2 separate regions of the Homo sapiens genome follow, and region 2 is linked to region 1. Evidence: fine-mapped expression QTL. A gene starts in region 1. The other region holds a variant in brackets. All regions are shown on one strand. Distances are between the middles of the regions. Region 1 holds the start of PTTG2 (pituitary tumor-transforming 2). Region 2 has its middle 4.3 kb from the start of TBC1D1.

Region 1 (2,500 bases):
TACAGAATTCAAGGCATGGACATAAAAGTGCTTTAAGTTGTAAGACATTAGCAGAATAAGATACGGGATTTCATGAACATTATTTAGCCATATAGACATTTTAAGATAATCAGTGTTAGTCCTAGCTGCAAATATGTTCCCTATTTTTTTTTAGCATTCCACAAAATTCTCATTCTTTTAATTATCTCCCTTTGCTGCTAGGACCTCCTTAAGGCTTTCATCTGGTTCACACTAGGCTGGGAAGAAAAGATGTAGAAGTTCTTGGCCTGGCCCTGGCCTTTTCTCCTTTATCCTTTGCTATTTCCTGTCTCCTGTTTCTCTACAGAAGTAAATCATGTTGACATATCCCCAAAGAGTACGGGCTGTAGTATGGAAGAAATATAGAAACAAGGGACAGCTGAGACAGATGCACATAAAGAGGAATATGACCCACTTTATATTTATGTATTTATTATGTTGTTAAACAAATAATGCTTTATTAATACAAGTACACACAAACTCCAAAGCACTAAGAAATTTAAATATCTATGTCATAGCAAACAGCTGGCAATTCAACATCCAGGGTCGACAGAATGCTTGAAGGAGACTGCAAACAGATTGCATTCCCATGGTGGAGAGGGCATTTTCACAGGTGAAGGGGGGCCCAGCTGAAACAGCTTTTCAAGCTCTCCCTCCTCATCAAGGATCATGAGAGGCACTCCACTCAAGGGGAGGTGTGCAATCTGGCGCTCTTCAGGCAGGTCAAAACTCTCAAAGTCTAGAAGATTGAAGGGAAAGAATTTTTCTATTTCTGGATAGGCGTCATCTGAGGCAGGAACAGAACTTTTTGTTTTAACAGTCTTCTCGGTCATCTTTTTGGCAGAAAAGCTTGGCTGTTTTTGTTTTCTGGGTCCATTGGTCTTTACTGACTTTTCTGTAGCTCTGTTGACAGTGCCCAAAGCCTTTCTGGTAGCTTTAGGTAAGGCTGATGGAGCATCGTATGTTTTGCCAAAACGTCGTGTTAAAACTTGAGATATCCCATCTAATGCTTTGATTGAAGGTCTAGACTCCAGCTTCAGCACATCCTTGGCAGCCACACGGGTGCCTGGTTCTCCAATTTCCTTATCAACGTAGATCAGAGTAGCCATTCTGGATTATTGCCGCTCTCAACAGCCACATTCATCTAAGACCGTGGTCCCACTTTATATTTAGATAGAATGTTAACTATAGTGGAAATTGGTGTAATATCTAATTTTTGTGCCTAGCACATCATCTGAGAGTTAGCATGAACTCATATAAAGAGCACAGGCCTGAGGTCAGACAAACCTGGGTAGGAATCTCGGGAGTACCACTTTCTGTTAGCTGTAAGATTTGGGCAAGTTAGCTAACATCCAAGCCCTATTTCCACATCCATAAAATGGAGGTAAAACCCAACTCTTACACATTGTTAAATGGTCAAAAACCACTTAGGTAAAGGGCAGAGCAACCAATAAATAAATAGTTTCTGCCGTTATTGCATTTTCTAATTTATAATGTACTTTTGCATACATTATTTCACTTCTTACTAACCTTTAATAAATGCAAGTCTTCCATTTTTTACTAAAGCAGCACCCCTGAAGTTTCTCTAAACTGCAAAATGCTCAAATGTTTCATCCCGAGTTATCCCTTTTGCCAACTCTGATCTACTGGTGGCAGACAATCCAGCATGCAGTGGTGGGGAGAGCCGAGAGGCCCTCTCTGAGCAACGTGACTACTAATGGTGCTTGCTTGGGCAGGAATACTGGACTATGGCAATGACTATATACCTTTGCCAACCCAACCCCAATCTAGTCCAGGCTATTGATTCACAGCAGCAAAGGGTCACTTCTGTTTCTAAGGCCTAGAGATAAGTTGAGGGCACTTTTGCAGTGAGCCATTTCAATTCAATGATAAATATTCTTGTTGTCTAATTCATTCTATGAATCTTTGACCCAGTGACATATGTGCGTACGTATTTGAGCCCATATGCAAAAATATACAGTTGAGTCTTGAACAATACAGGATTGAGTCGCATGGATCCACTTGTTCTCAGATTTTCTTCTGCGGCTGCCACCTCTGAGACTGCAAGACCAACCCCTCCTCTTCCTCCTCCTCCTCAGCCTATTCAACGTGAAGACAATGAGGGTGAAGACCTGTATGATGATCTATTTCTACTTAATGAATAATGCAATATGTTCTCTTCCTTATGATTTTTCTTAATAACATTTTCTTCAGCTTACTTTATTGTGAGAATACAGGATATAGTGCATAAAACATACGAAATATATGTTAGTCGACTGTGTTATTGGTGAGGTCAACGGAAGACTATCGGTTAAGCTTTTTGGGAGTCAAAGGTTATAGGTGGATTTTCGACTATGCAGGTGATTGGCGCCCCTAACCCTCACATTGTTCAAGGGTCAACTGTGCCTGTTTATTTGCATAAGGCCACCTCAAATACAAAGGGCCATTCAAAGGTATCATTAGAAGTCTTGCTCTTAACCTG
Region 2 (3,032 bases), 74 kb after region 1:
GCTAGCACCCTAAGAATGATGAGGAGGGATTTTACCATACTTTCAACTTCTGGGAAACAGAACTCCCTCTATAGTATGCAATAAGGATTGTTGAAATTCTTTTTAAAATCTATACAGCATTATCTTAGAAATTAGGGGACAGCTTGCTATCAATCTATTTGGCCTTAGGTTTTCTAGCAGTTGTAGAACAAATAGTAAAGGGGACTTTGAAGCAGATGGTGATACCTGGTATGGCAGGATGAAGACTGTCAAATGTGGTTGGGGAGATCCATACTGGCCCAGTGCAGAGTGCAGAAGTAAGAGCTCACCACTCAGCTCTTACCTGCAGGTGCCATTGCTCTAGGAGGGAAGTAGCTCCTTCCCCTTGATATGTGGCCACGTGACTCCCAGGAGAGCTGGTACACACCATGGTAGAAGCGTGGGCCAATGGGGCCTTGGTGATGGCAACAGAGAGCTCCCTCAAGGCCCAGGAAGGTGTTCTGTTGGTCCCTCTTTAAGTCACCGATAACAAAAGCAAGCAGAGAATAGGGCCAAATGCTCCAATGATTCTGCTTCAGCTTCTGATTCTTCTGACGGAGTATGACCCAGGAACACAAGGAGTGTGGAGCTCTTCACCACCATGGGCATTTAGCTGACATCAGCTATGGACCCATTGGCTCAGCGAGTGAAAACCCTGATGCGAAGGCACCGACCATCATGGCTGCTGCACTTTTCCTGTCTGGACAACTTCCGCACCTCCAGCTCTTCCCAAAATCCTGCCATGGATCATTCTTTTAGGGCTTCTCCCATAGACTCTTTCCTAATTTAGCTATTTGCAGCATAATTAGTTATTCATTGCCAAAAGCCAGGAACATTAATATCAGCTTTAAGATGGCTGCAGAGCTCTAGAAAATTGTGAACCATCGATGCTATTAAATCACATGAAAAGCTCAGAGCCTGAAAGAAAACAGAGGCCACTTTACTTTTAAAAAGTTAAGGGAACCATGGGAACCATATATACATCTAGAATTAAAATCTTTCGTTGATGTAGAAAGAAGACCTTTAACAAAATTAATCATCATTAAATCCATCAGTTAGGTATTTAAATGCTCATATTAGTTAGGAATCCAAACTATTGCTATTATATATTTTTACTTAAATTCAAAATGTGCATAATAAGGTAGTGGGTCCATTTCCAAAAAATGGCATCAATAAAGGCAAAAAATAAGACTATACTGGCTAGAACCCTAGGATAGTAAGGTGGTTCACTGGGTATGCTTGTTCCCATTGATTGATAGTGACTTTCTGGAGCCCTGAGTGGACGAGGCTTGTAAGGCAAGTCCATGCTCAGTGGGAAAGGGTGCAAGATTGAGAAGCAGCACCTGCCTCAAGCATGGGAGGAGGCAGCATTGCAACACCAGCGCCAGGTAATTTGCCAACCCTGTCAATCCAAGGCATAACAGTTAGATCTAAAGAGTTTGTGAAGGCTGGGGTGGTGGCTTATCCTATAATCCCAGCACTTTGGGAGGTTGAGGTGGGCTGATCACTTGAGCCCAGGAGTTGGAGATGAGCCTAGGCAACATGACAAAACCTCTATAAAAAAATACAAAAAAAAAAAA[C/AC]TTAGCTGGGCGTGGTGTTGCACACCTGTAGTTCAAGCTACCCAGGAGGCTGAGGTGGGAGGATGGTTTGAGCCCTGGAGGTTGAGGCTGCAGCAAGCTGTGATGACACCACCACACTCCAATCTGGGTGTTGGAGTGAGAAACTGTCTCTAAATAATAATAATAATAACATAGAGTCTGTTAAGTTATGCCCAAATATCTTGTTTTCTTTCTTTTCTTTCTTTCTTTTTCTCTTTCTCTTTCTCTTTCTTTGTCTTCCTCTTTCTTTTTCCTTCCTTCCTTCCTAGCTTTCTTCCTAATTCTTTCTTTCTTTCCTTTGGTTTTGTTTTCTGAGACAGGGTCTGGCTCTGTTGCCCACGCTGGGGTGCCGTGGTGCCTTCGTGGCTCACTGCAGCCTCGACCTCTTGGGCTCAAGCTATCCTCTGCTCAGTGTTCTGAGTAGCTGGGACTACAGGCGCACACCACCACACCCAGCTAATTTTTAAGTGTTTTGTAGACACAGGATTTCGCTGTGTTGCCTAGACTGGTCTCAAACTCCTAAACTCAAGCAATCCACCCACATCGGCCTCCCAGAGCGCTGGGATTACAGACGTGAGCCACTGCGCCCAGTTCCCAAATATCTTAATTAACTATAAGAAATATTCTTCATGACAAGAAAATGAAAATCAAAGTCAGAGACTATATTACATCCAATTGTCTGCAATACTAGATCCCTGAAATTGCTTTCCGAAAGGCATAAGATTAATAAAATATGATGCAAAAAATTAAAATGAGCAGATAGCCAACATAGATTTTAGAATTTCAGCAATTGAAATAAACAAAAATTTTACTGCACGAAGAACTCACGCTTACAATGCAAGAGACAACGGTAAATCAATGCAGTGAGAGAATGGGTGGACTGTATACTTAAGCCCCAGAGTAGGCTTCTGTGAAGTATCTAATCTCCTTTTATGGACAAAGCAGATAAAACTCTGGGCACTGGTTCCACTTCCTTTTCCAGCAACCTCTCCTATTTGTCATTGCTCTACACAAGCAACTGCTCCACGCAGCTCTCTGACGATGTCCAGCCTTTACTTGGGGTTCTCACTTTCCACCCGAGCTGGTTCCGTGGGTCTGGGCACCAAGTACAAAGTTTGGCAAATGTTAGATGGCACGTCATTTTTAAATTATGATATCTAAATTTGTCTAAGGTCAATGAGAATTTTTTTGTAAATTGTCAGAGCTAGTTATGGATGTCGATGATTTTACTCAGACTGGGTAAGCTGACTAAGCTCTCTACCCTGCAGCAACCCCACTTCATTTTACCCCAAATGCCATTGGTGGTACCTAATGTGTAATCTCACCTAGAATGCAGGAGCTGCTAACTGGTTTCCCTGATTCGGCCCTCACCACCCTGCAGTCTATTCTTAACATAGCAGCCACTTGAATCTGCTA

What was found. PIP is the estimated chance that this variant, and not a neighbour inherited with it, causes the effect.
Region 2: its variant is the best candidate, but not a certain one, in a credible set for the expression of PTTG2 in whole blood (INTERVAL, PIP 0.68).

The regions. Positions count from the first base shown.
Region 1 is chr4:37,959,062-37,961,561 of GRCh38, reverse strand. PTTG2 (pituitary tumor-transforming 2) reads right to left here and starts at 1,164. Exons shown (of 1, transcript NM_006607.3): 1 at 434-1,164. The coding sequence starts at 1,127. The coding sequence ends at 552. All of the region lies in intron 2 of TBC1D1 (TBC1 domain family member 1), which reads right to left.
Region 2 is chr4:37,885,259-37,888,290 of GRCh38, reverse strand. No RefSeq gene overlaps it. Among named protein-coding and RNA genes, the nearest start is that of TBC1D1, 4.3 kb to the left of the region's middle. The variant C/AC (reference allele first, on the strand shown) is at 1,599.